Linked DNA regions of Homo sapiens. The protein of the gene in region 1 interacts with the protein of each later gene in a biochemical or structural test. Each region holds a gene or a part of one and is shown on either strand. Other genes may lie near its edges.

Region 1 (7,031 bases):
TGACAAAGACACATGCACTTGTGTGTTCATTGCAGCACTATTCAAAACTGCAGACATGGAATCCACCTAAATGCCCATCAATGGTAGACTGGATAAAGAAAATGTGGTACATATATACCATGGAATACTACGCAGCCATAAAAAATAACAAGATCATGTCCTTTGCAGCAAGATGGATGGAGCTGGAGGCCATTATCCTAAGCAAACTAATGTAGAAACAGAAAACCAAATATCACATGTTCTCATTTATAAGTGATAGCTAAACATTGAGTACATATGCACACAAAGAAGGGAATAACACACTGGGGCCTACTTGAGAATGGAGAAAGGGTGGAGAGAGAGGATCAAAAAACTATCTAATGGGTAGTAGGCTTATTACCTAGGTGATGAAATAATCTGTACACCAAACCCCTGTGACATGTAGTTTACCTGCAAACTGCACATGTACCTCTGAACCTAAAATAGAAGTTAAAAAAAAAAGTAATTTTGGGTGGGGCACAGTGGCTCATGCCTGTAATCCCAGCACTTTGGGAGGCTGAGGCAGGAGGATTGCTTGAGCTCAAGAGTTCGAGACCAATCTGAGCAACATAGGAAGACCTTGTCTCTACAGAATATTAAAAAATTAGCCGGGCATGGTGGTGCACGACTCTGGTTCCAGCTACATGGGAGGCTGAGATGGGAGGATCACTTGAGCCCAGGAGATTGAGGCTGCAGTGAGCTGTGATGGCACCACCGCACTCCAGCCTGGTTGACAGAGAAAGACCCCATCTCAAAAAAAAAAAGTAATTTTGGAAGGACATACCTGGGATATGTTAATAGCACATTTCATTTCTAAAGTCAGAGGAAATTATAAGATCATAACCAGGGATCTGTATTAGCGGACTAGTAGACAAGAGGACCTTAAAGATAGGGAGCTATTGCCTTTCCGCCCGTGTACGCCACTGAAGAAGCATCGTTAAAGTCTCTCTTCTCCCTTCCATCTTGTCTAAGTCAGAGTCTCCTAAAGAGCTCAAACAGCTGAGGAAGCTCTTCATTGGAGATTTGAGCTTTGAAACAACTGACGAGAGCCTGAGGAGCCATTATGAGTGATGGGGAATGCTCACAGACTGTGTGGTAATGAGAGATCCAAACACCAAGCGCTCCAGGGGCTGTGGGTTTGTCACATACGCCACTGTGGAGGAGGTGGATGCAGCCACGAACGCAAGGCCACACAAGGTGGATGGAAAAGTTGTGGAACCAAAGAGAACTGTCTCAAGAGAAGATTCTCAAAGACCAGGTGCCCACTTAACTGTGAAAAAGATATTTGTTGGTGGCATTAAAGAAGACACGGAAGAACATCACCTAAGAGATTACTTTGAACAGTTTGGAAAAATGGAAGTGATTGAAATCATGACTGAGGCAGTGGCAAGAAAAGGGGCTTTGCCTTTGTAACTTTTGACGACCATGACTCCGTGGATAAGATTGTCATTCCGAAATACCATACTGTGAATGGCCACAACTGTGAAGTTAGGAAAGCCCTGTCAAAGCAAGAGATGGCTAGTGCTTCATCCAGCCAAAGAGGTCGAAGTGGTCGTGGAGGTGGTTTTGGTGGGAATGAAAACTTTGGTTGTGGAGGAAACTTCAGTGGTCATGGTGGCTTTGGTGGCAGCCATGATGGTGGTGGATATGGTGGCAGTGGGGATGGCTATAATGGATTTGGTAATGATGGTGGTTATCCAGGAGGCGGCCCTGGTTACTCTGGAGGAAGCAGAGGCTATGGAAGTGGTGGACAGGGTTGTGGAAATCAGGACAGTGGCTATGGCAGGAGTGGCAGCTATGACAGCTGTAACAAGGGAGGCAGAGGCGGCTTTGGCAGTGGTAGTGGAAGCAATTTTGGAGGTGGTGGAAGCTACAATGATTTTGGCAATTACAACAATCAGTATTCAAATTTTGGACCCATGAAGGGAGGAAACTTTGGGGCAGACGCTCTGGCCCCTAGGGTGATGGAGGCCAATACTTTGCCAAACCACCAAACCACAGTGGCTATGGCGGTTCCAGTAGCAGCAGTAGCTATGGCAGTGGCAGAAGATGTTAATTGGGAATCAAAGCTTAGCAGGAGAGGAGAGCCAGAGAAGTGACAGAGAAGCTACAGGTTACAACAGATTCATGAACTCAGCCAAACACAGTGGTGGCAGGGCCTAGCTGCCACAAAGAAGACATGTTTTATACAAATACTCATGTTTATGGGCAAAAAAGTCAAGGACTGTATTTGTGACTAATTGTATAACAGGTTATTTTAGTTTCTGTTCTATGGAAAGTGTAAAGCATTCCAACAAAGGGTTTTAATGTAGATTTTTTTTGCACCCATGCAAAAAATTGCTATATGTGATAGTCTGATCATGACACTGAATAAATGTCTTTTTTTTTTAATGTGCTGTGTAAAGTTAGTCTACACTGAAGCCATCTTGGTAAATTTCCCCAACAGTGTGAAGTTAGCATTCCTTCAGGGTGATGCCAGGTTCTATTTGGAATTTATATACAACCTGCTTGGGTGGAGAAGCCATTGTCTTCAGAAACCTTGGTGTAATTGAATTGATAGTTACTGTTGTGACCTGAAGTTCACCATTAAAAGGGACTACCCAAGCAAAATCATGGAATTATTGGTTATAAAAATAATTGTTGGCACATCCTATGCAATATATCTACGTTGAATAATGGTACCAGATAAAATTATAGATGGGAATGAAGCTTGTGTATCATCCATTATCATGTGTAATCAATAAACAATTTAATTCTCTTGAAAAAAAAGATAGGGAGCTATTTAAAGATTATTAGGAAAGCTTACTAGCTAAGATGGTTAATACCTTGTCTTATCTTGCACATCAGCTTCTGTCTTTTTCTCATCTATTACCTGAGTTAAGTTATAGTTGGTCTATTTGGTATCCTTAAAACTTAGGGGTTGCTTTGGTTGGTCGTGTAATACTCTAAGAGAGAGAATACCAGTTTTGCCACCTGAATGTATTGCTTTGTTTCTTCCATAAACATTTAAAAAATACTCTCTCCATATTCACCCCATTTAAAAATTAGAAAAATAATATACATTTATTGTAGAAAGTTTGGAAAATACAAAAAATACTAGAAGTAAATAAAAAATTTCATAGAGTTCTACCACCTAGAGGAAATAATGTTTTTCCTTGATTGATATAATGGATGCTTTCCTTTGAAACATTTTTTTTTGTTTTGAGACAGTCTCCCTCTGTTACTCAGGCTAGAGTGCAGTGGTGTGATCTTGTCTCACTGCAACCTCTGCCTCCTGGGTTCAAGTGATTCTCCTGCCTCAGCTTCCCAAGTAGCTGGGACTACAGGCGCGCACCACCACGCCCTGCTAATTTTTGTATATTTAGTAGAGACGGGGTTTTGCCACGTTGACCAGACTGGTCTCGAACTCCTGACCTCAGGTGATCCACCTGCCTTGGCTTCCCAAAGTGTTGGGATTACAGGCGTGAGCCACCGCACCCGGCCTTGAAACATTTGTTTTAAAATAGTTGGCCAGGAGTGGTGGCTCATGCCTGTAATCCCAGCACTTTGGGAGGCTGAGGCAGGTGGATCATTCGAGGCCAGCAGTTCCAGACCAGCCTGGCCAGCATGGTGAATCTCCATCTCTACTGAAAATGCAAAAATTCGCCAGGTGTGGTGGTGCATGCCTGTAGTTTTAGCTAATTGGGAGGCTGAGGCAGGTGGATCATTCGAGGCCAGCAGTTCCAGACCAGCCTGGCCAGCATGGTGAATCCCCATCTCTACTGAAAATGCAAAAATTCGCCAGGTGTGGTGGTGCATGCCTGTAGTTTTAGCTACTTGGGAGGCTGAAGCAGGAGAGTTGCTTGAACCCGGGAGGCGGGGGTTGCAGTGAGCCGAGACTGTGTGACTGCACGGAGTGAGACTCTGTCAAAAAAAAAAAAGAAAGAAAGAAAGGAAGGACGCAAGGAAGAAAGCAAGGAAGGAAGGAAGGAAGAAAAGAAAGAAAGAAAGAAAGAAAGAAAGAAAGAAAGAGAAAGAGAGAGAAAGAAAGAAAGAAAGAAAGAAAGAAAGAAAGAAAGAAAGAAAGAAAGAAAGAAAGAAAGGAAGGAAGGAAGGAAGGAAAGAAAGAAAAAGAAAGAAAGAGAAAGAGAAGGAAAATATGTGTATGGTATATATACCATTTTAATCATTTCTTAAAGTAAACATTGTGGCCATTACTTTACTCGTGCATAATACTTTTTCACACCTTAATTATTTATCTTCATTTCCCAGAAGTGAAGTTCCAGGGTAAAAGAGAAGGAATGCTTTTGAGGCTATTGAGACATACTGCTCAACTGCTCTCTGGGAAGATGTTGCCAATTTGCATTTTCACCCCTGTGAAATGCATGTTCAATTTGCATGCCCACGTGAACACTCCCATTTCCCTGAATCCCAGTTAATGCTGGGCATTATTAATTAAAATTGTTTTTCAATTTGAGAGACTAAAATGGTATCTTGTTTTAATATTTATTACTCTGACTATTTCTGAGGCCAATATTTTTTTCACATTGTTATTATCCATTTCTTAAATATGTTTTTCCTCAAATTGAGCTGGGGAATTTTCTTCAAATAAGAAATAGCACTGAATTGCATAATGTTCACTCTGTTTGATTTGTCCCATCTCTGCCTCTTCCTTCCCTAGAGATACTCAAGGAAGTTATTTGCTTGCACCAGCTTAAGAAACCTCACTTCACACAGTCCCAATGTATCACACTTGAGCAACTGTGCAAGAAAGGACATAATTTAGTATTGCTAGGAAGTATATTTTTAGTAGTTCCTGTGCAGGTAGAAGCAAACTGCTGCTTTGCAAAGATCTCAGGGATAGAAAAGCTGCTTTATTTATTTATTTATTTTATTTATTTTGAGACGGAGTCTCACTCTGTCACCCAGGCTGGAATGCAGTGGCGCGACCTGGGCTCACTGCGACCTCCTGGGTTCGAGTGATTCTCCTTCCTCAGTCTCCCGAGTGTCTGGGATTACAGGCACCCACCACCACACTCGGCTAATTTTTGTATTTTTAGCAGAGATGGGGTTTCACCATGTTGGCCAGGCTGGTCTTGAACTCCTGATCTCAAGTGATCCACCCGCCTTGGCTTCCCAAGGTGCTGGGATTACAGGCGTGAGCCACTGCGCCTGGCCAAAAAGCTGCCTTTAAAAAAAATGTAGACAAGGTAAAAAAGATATTACTATGTTAAATGTTTAAGCACTTGAGAAAGGAGGTGATGGATAAGTACTGAGTTTTATGTACCAGTAGCATCAGTCACATACTTTCCCTTTTTTGTGTTTGTTTTGTTTTTAATCATCTGCCTCTATTTCACATCTACTTTCTCTGTTGGTTTTTTAGATTGGACAAGCTGTCCTCGAAGACAGTCTTAGATTCTTAAAATTAAATCTTATTTTATTTTTTTGGAGACAGTGTCTTGCTCTGTTGCCCAGGCTGGAGTGCAGTGGTGTGATCTCAGCTCACTGCAACCTCTGCTGCCTCCTGGGTTCAAGCGATTCTTATGCCTCAGCATCCCATGTGGCTGGAATTACAAGCATGCACCACCACGCGCAGCTAATTTTTTGTATTTTTAGTAGAGACAGGGTTTCGCTATGTTGCCCAGGCTAGGTCTCCAACTCCTGAGATCAGGCAGTCTGCCCGCCTCGGCCTCCTAAAGTGCTAGGATGAGCCACTGTGCCAGGCCTTAAAATTAAATTTTATATGTAATTTAAGAATAAGAATATTTACCATGTGTTCCATTTCTGTGCTTTTCTCCTGCTTCTTGGTCAGACTTGTAAATTTTCAGGAAATGGTCTGTTTTATGAATAACAGATTAGCAAACGAAACCATTGTCCTTTATTTTTTCTATTTCCATCTTCCAGATTTGGTGAAATTAGTAGCTTAAAAATGATACACATTGGAGAACTCAGTAAAGAATGAAGGATGAACTGCTACACAAATAAGTCCTAAACAAGAAATTAGTGTGTAATCTCATTCTTAACCCTGTCTCTGTGCAGTCTTGGAAGTGGATCCTTGCACCGGTCATTCTTTATATCTGTGAAAGGATCCTCCGGTTTTACCGCTCCCAGCAGAAGGTTGTGATTACCAAGGTAAAGAATATGCACTTTCCTCTTGCTGTGATAAGAGTTATCTTCTACCGGACTACAGAACTAAATTTTTATGTTGTCACCCTGAAAGAGGAACTTGGAAACTGGGCACAGTGGGTGGTAGTCCCAGCACTTTGGGAGGCCAAGGAGGGCAGATCTGTTGAGGTCAGGAGTTCGAGACCAGCCCGGCCAACATGGCGAAACCCCATCTCTAATAAAAAAAAAAAAATTAGCTGAGCGTGGTGGTGCCCACCTGTAATTCCAGCTACTTGGGAGGCTGAGGCGGGAGAATCGCTTGAACCCGGGAGGCAGAGGTTGCAGTGAGTTGAAATAGCGCCACTGCACTCCAGCCTGGGTGACAGAGAGAGGCTCTGTCTCAAAAAAAAAAGAAGAAGAACTTGGGTTTGGCATACCTCAGTTCCTCCAGCACTGGACAGAACTGGGAAAGAGGGGCTTGGCCGAAATCATCAGGATGAGTCTATATCAGAGGTTGCAAACAGGCAGCCTGGGCCAGAGCTAGTTCACAGCTATATTTTGTTTGGTGCACACAATGTTTGTTTATAAAGTTGAATTGGTTGCCAACATTTAAAAATCTGGATGGAAGCTTTCGTTTGATTTTTTAAAAGCTATTTCTTGCTTCTCTTGAAGAATCAGGAAACCTGATAACACTGTCATGGTTCCATATCGCAACCACTGTCTGGAGCTAAGTAGCTGCTGCCCTCTTTAGAGAGGACTTGTGTTTGTAGTTCACCACTGTCACCAGCCCTCCAGCTTCACTCATTTGCTTTATCTGCCTGTCCCTGTCGTCATTAGAGTTTGCTTTCTTTGGTCTATGTGCTTCATTCACAGGTTGTTATGCACCCATCCAAAGTTTTGGAATTGCAGATGAACAAGCGTGGCTTCAG
Region 2 (5,954 bases), on another chromosome or scaffold:
GATTATTAAATGTTGCTGTAGAGTAAAATGTTTTTATTGCCAGATCTTTGATGTATAAACACTCACTGTATATGTTCTGATTGGTCTCATATGTCTTTGCTGAAACTCTTGGAATAATGGCTCAAAATGGGATGAATATCCAGAGCAGTACAGTCACAACCTTTAACTTCCTCCCTGTTGAAAATGCTGGGGTTTCAACAATCCGTAATTCCGATTTGAAAAGGGCTACAGTTTCCTTCCCTCTCTGGCTTTGGTCATGAGGAGGCCTGGGCTCGGTAGACAGAGGTGAAGAGAACTGGTAAAAGATGCCCTCCTCTAGCTTGCCTGGATGAACGTTTTTAAATGCATAATTGCTAGAACTTAATATTTAAGTGACATGGTATAGTCAAGTTGTTTTTCTTCATTCTGCCATGGTATTCGCCTGAGGTTTATTTATTATTTTTTCATGATCCTAGGTTCACGCAAAGAATCTGCTCCACAAGTTTTGCTTCCAGAAGAAGAGAAAATTATAGTGGAAGAAACTAAAAGTAATGGTCAGACAGTGATAGAAGAAAAGTAAGATGTCTTCCGGTATTCTAAAGCAGATGTTTGACCTCTGCGGTGGGGTAGTAGAGTCCAGACAACTCCCTGAGGGCGGGGGTATGGCTTCAGAAGCTTCACTTTTTTTTTTTTTGAGACGGAGTGTCACTCTTGTCACCCAGGCTGGAGTGCAATGGTGCGATCTCAGCTCACTGCAACCTCCACCTTCCGGGTTCAAGCGGTTCTCCTGCCTCAGCCTCCCGAGTAGCTGGGATTACAGGCCTGTGCCACCACGCCTGGCTAATTTTTGTATTTTTAGTAGAAACGAGTTTTCACCCTGTTGGCCAGGCTGGTCTCAAACTCCTGACCTCAGGTGATCTGCCCGCCTCGGCCTCCCAAAATGCTGGGATTACAGGTGTGAGCCACTGTGCCTGGCCAGAGCTTCACTTTTAAAATGTCTTCATAGGCTGAAGTTGCCCTTGACTAGGCTTGAACCTGCCATGCACAGAGGTTGGCAGTTTTTAGTTGTGAATGTAGACAGTACATGGGTAAGGCAGAGCAGCTCCGTGTCCTCCTCTCAGCATCGTAGTGTCTCCTGGTAAGTTTTCGTGTGTCCTCTCCATGCCTCACCTTGTTCATGTGTGTGTGTTCTGTTTCCTGTTTCAGGAGTCTTGTGGATACCGTATATGCATTAAAGGATGAAGTTCAAGAATTAAGACAGGTACGTCATAATCCATCTTTAAATCTTTTTTTTCTTTTCAAATGGGAGAAAAGAAGAAAATTACATTAAAAATAAGCTGGCTGGGTACGGTGGCTCACACCTATAATCCCAGCACTTTAGAAGGCCGAGGTGGACAGATCACCTGAGGTCAGGAGTTCAAGACCAACCTCACCAACATGGCAAAAACCCATCTCTACTGAAAATACGAAAATTAGCTGGGCATAGCGGCAGGTGCCTGTAACCCAGCTACTTGGGAGGCTGAGGCAGGAGAATTGCTTGAACCTAGGAGGCGGAGGTTGCTGTGAGCCGAGATTGTGCCACTGCACTCCAGTCTGAGCCACAGAGCAAGACTCCGTCTCAAATAAAAATAAAAAGCTGATTGTCCATAAGCAAAAAACTAAAAGGAGGTCATGTCTTTGAGAAGTCCAGCAGATAAAATAATTGGTTGTCTCTAAAGTGACTTGTTTAAACTCTTTTTTTTTTCTTAACAATACTGATTTTGATGTCATAAAACATCGCAAATTCTGTTGGAAGAATAATTTAAAATATCGAAAGTTCTGTCTGGTGACAAATCCTGCGAGGCGCCCCTGAGATTAGCCTCTGCCACTGCATGGTCCTTGGCTCCCGAAGCCAGGTTAGCGAGCCAGAAGTGGCGACTAACCAAGGGTGTTCTGGGTATTGCACGGAATGTGAGTATGAGCAGCTTTGGTCCTCTGCCCAGCTAGGCGAGGGAAGGTTGGGGTGTTCATTGCACGGAATGTGAGTACGAGCGGCTTTGGTCCTCTGCCCAGCTAGGTGAGGGAAGGTTGGGGTGTTCTTTTGGCCGAGGAACAGCCTGAGAAGAGTTGTGGTCTGGGATAGAGAGCTGAGAGCAGGTTGCTGTGTGGAACTGGACATGTGCTGTCATTCTAAGCAGTGTCCGCAGGTCTTCCAGGTACACCTTTGCCTGGCTGGCAGGCTTCCATGTTCACGCTTTGCCCCTACCGGCAGCAGGCATCTGTTTGTGCATGCCTCCTACGTCCGAGACATGCCTGGGTTCAGCTGCACAGAGCAGGTGCTCGCCCACTTGCTCCTGCACCTGTCAGTGGCTGTTACTTCCAGTCCTTTCTGTAACTCTGGAAGGTGGTTATAAATGGACAAAAAGGCTGGATAGGAGCTGTCTCGTCCGCAGTTTCCAGCTATTTTCTTACGGTATGTTCTATAGAGATTCATTCATGGACTTAATAAGAGCCATTAGGACCATTTCCATCCCGGGAACAGCAGCACAGTCAGGAGCACCGCTGCCACCCTGTCCAGGTGTTTGACCTTCGTGGATCCCCACGACCTCAGAGCCCATAGGCAGCTCACGTGGGATTTCATGAATCGAGGCCTTAGCTCCTCAAGGATACACATTTGGGGAAAGGAAGCCCTACGCGATGCCAAAGATAGTGAACACCCTGTGGTCTGCTTAATTTACAGGACAACAAAAAGATGAAGAAATCTCTAGAGGAAGAACAGAGAGCCCGCAAAGACCTGGAGAAGCTGGTGAGGAAAGTCCTGAAGAACATGAATGATCCTGCCTGGGATGAGACCAATCTATAAGGGATGTCCTCAGTTCTTTCTGTTGAAGACCAGTTCTGAGGTGAAGCTGGGCACCCCTGACCCAAGTCGGGGTGCACTCAGGACCACAGGGCAGGGCTGGGTGGGGCGCCACCTTGCTCTCTGTATATAGAAAAGCTGGAGCTTATTCTGCGAATGGAGACGATCAAACCATGACTGATGAATCCAGACAGGAGGGATTGACTCTGAGGACCTGAGCTACATCAATCCACTCTGTGAACATCTCAGTTACCTCATTCTGCAATAAGTTCAGTGACTGACTAAAAGTCTTGTTTTTCCAGACTTTGAATTGAATATATAAATATTATATATACATGTTTCTTGTAAATATCCCATTTTGAATGCATACCTGTGGTGGTTCTGTCCGGGCTAATCCCCATGCTAGAATGTCCTTTCCAGCTACGTGAATAAGAAGTCCCATGCCCGCATCCACCGGAAGCAGAAGCCTGGTGGATGCCTGGTTCGTTCCGCAGCACCAGGGCCTCCACCGTGCTGTGGCAGCACCCCCCATGTCGGTATTTCTAAATAACCTTATTTATACCTGCAGAGATACACTTCAGTCCCATTCAGAAGTCTTCTCTTAAAGCAGCATTACAGTCCCAGACCTGCGGGTTTCTGAGGGCAACTTGCTGGCTGACAGACTCAGTCTTGACCTCAAGGAAGGCCCATACGGCACTGCCGCATCCACCTAGAGGTGTTTGCTCTTGTCCGCTGTCTGAGTACTGTGATTCTCAGATGAGTTTGCTGCGTTTTGGGAGGACACAGACGGTTCTGTATAGGCTAGTTCAGTAACAACAAAATACACTGTTTTGTCTTCCCTCAAAGAGAGATCTTACTAGAACCTGTAAATAGAATGTATTATTTATTATAAGTCACTGCAGCTGATGAAAACAGATGGAGGCCATGCTGCAGGCTGATACTGATGGGTGGAGTTTTGTCATCAGGCCAGCCTCATCCCGAGGTCTCCTCCACCATTGGCCGTAGCCAGCAGGCTTCAGTGCTCACCGAAAGTAAAATCCCCTCCTTCAGCAAGAATAAAGCAATATACACCTTAGGTTCCACTAAGTAACATAGGCATAAGCAGGGAACGTTTCCCCCACTGTGTTCCAGTGCAGAGGAGACGAAGCCTGTCCTCACCGCGGCTCGCTGGGCCCAGGCTGGCTCTGGAAAGCCTGTGCGGTCCTGGGCAGGAAGCCCGGCCCGTGGAGCAGGTTTTCGTTCTGCTTCAGCAATAAATAAGGGTGACCACAGGGACTTTGCTTTTGGTTTCCTTTCCTGTGAAAAGGTTGGTTTTAAAGTGAGATACACTTTTCCGTAGAACAAGTGTTCTATCTTTAAAAACCCAAATTGCAGCACCGTGGATTACTGGTCTCAGAACAACTCATTGCGCATCAGATTTGACTCTCTGATTTTCTGTCTATTGGCCAAATTGCCCTTTAACTGCACCTGAATCCTTTGTGTACTGATGCCTTTGAGCTGGGCACCTTGGGAGAGTGTTGTGTTGCTGTTTACGGTTCTTCCTTGCCCTTGCTAATTACAGTCTCTGGTGCCCAGCAAGCCCCTTTGGCTTCCTTCCGTGACTGGTCACGTTGTCTGCCTGGGCTCAGCGTGGACCTGCCCCATGCTGCAGAACCTGGCCTCACCTGGACTTTTCACTAGAATTGCCAGCTTCCTCAACTTAGCAGATCATTCACTCATGCGGGCACAAGCAAAGATCAACACTTTCTTTTTTGGTAAGCTTGAGTTTTACAAGTTATTTTTTGGTGATGCGTAAGACATTGCAGTGGGAAACCATTCAACTTGAGTTTATTGGAGTTTGCTGTTGTAGCAGGTTTTAACTCAGGAACAACTCTTGTCTGATCTCTCCGCCCCTCTGCCGGGAGGCGACATTAACTGTCCTCTCGGAGCCGGTAGCGTTGCTGTCCGAGTCCCCAGGACGGATCTCCTGCAGACCTGCCTTAATGCTCAGATCGAAGTATTTCACAAGAATACTTGTGTTTTTAACAGCCCTTCCCCTGGACGGTGCGGCCATGAGGGCCTCATGTTACGGCATTGCCTTTTCTTTCTGTGGATCCAGTATCTTCCTCGGCTTTTTAGGGAGCAGGAAAAATGCGTCTGAGAGCAACTCTTTTTAAAAACCTGCCCTGTTGTATATAACTGTGTCTGTTTCACCGTGTGACCTCCCAAGGGGGTGGGAACTTGATATAAACGTTTAAAGGGGCCACGATTTGCCCGAGGGTTACTCCTTTGCTCTCACCTTGTATGGATGAGGAGATGAAGCCATTTCTTATCCTGTAGATGTGAAGCACTTTCAGTTTTCAGCGATGTTGGAATGTAGCATCAGAAGCTCGTTCCTTCACACTCAGTGGCGTCTGTGCTTGTCCACATGCGCTGGGCGTCTGGGACCTTGAATGCCTGCCCTGGTTGTGTGGACTCCTTAATGCCAATCATTTCTTCACTTCTCTGGGACACCCAGGGCGCCTGTTGACAAGTGTGGAGAAACTCCTAATTTAAATGTCACAGACAATGTCCTAGTGTTGACTACTACAATGTTGATGCTACACTGTTGTAATTATTAAACTGATTATTTTTCTTATGTCACAGAATGTGTCGCTTCGTCTTCTTTGATGTGTTTTCTGTGTGCTTGTTAGCTTTACAGTTTCTTTGGGCTGTTTTAGATTTGAAAATTCTGTCTGTCTTTGATACTGAAGATAACATGTTTCCTTTAAAGTCTAGAGTTTGAGAAAATTTGAAGATTTTTTTTTAAAAGACAAGGAAAGAACACTGGAAGTCTTAGGAACAAAAGCTGAAGTAACAGGTCACGCTGGTAGGCACAGCCCCCAGGTCCTCACCCATGCCTGGAGGAATGACCTGCATTCTGGAAGGCGCTCAGGACACCGTTTTGTGGGATCAAGTAAGCGAAACTTTCTTGAAGATATCTGTGGGGTCCCTTTTAGGAGCTGTCATAAGACAAAAGGAAATTGCTCGTGTGTGTCCCTGTGTGGCGGTGGTGCAAACGAGGGTGTCTTCCGGAAGGGTGGCCGGGAGGACCAAGCGGGGTCTCCTGTCCATGGTCCGTGTACCTGGCTCAGGTGTGTCTACAGCTCCGCTGCAT

What was found. The genes of interacting proteins can lie anywhere in the genome.
Region 2: the proteins of NOX1 (region 1) and ARHGEF7 form a complex in vitro, tested with the Homo sapiens proteins (one study listed by BioGRID).

What each region holds. Positions count from the first base shown.
Region 1 is NC_000023.11:100,850,331-100,857,361, reverse strand, and holds part of NOX1 (NADPH oxidase 1), read left to right. Parts: intron 1-920; exon of another isoform or gene 921-2,789; intron 2,790-6,036; coding exon 6,037-6,129; intron 6,130-6,975; coding exon 6,976-7,031. UniProt on the Homo sapiens protein: NADPH oxidase that catalyzes the generation of superoxide from molecular oxygen utilizing NADPH as an electron donor.
Region 2 is NC_000013.11:111,300,293-111,306,246, forward strand, and holds the end of ARHGEF7 (rho guanine nucleotide exchange factor 7), read left to right. Parts: intron 1-455; coding exon 456-555; intron 556-1,185; coding exon 1,186-1,240; intron 1,241-2,698; coding exon 2,699-2,821; 3' UTR 2,822-5,440; downstream 5,441-5,954. UniProt on the Homo sapiens protein: Acts as a RAC1 guanine nucleotide exchange factor (GEF) and can induce membrane ruffling. Functions in cell migration, attachment and cell spreading. Promotes targeting of RAC1 to focal adhesions. May function as a positive regulator of apoptosis.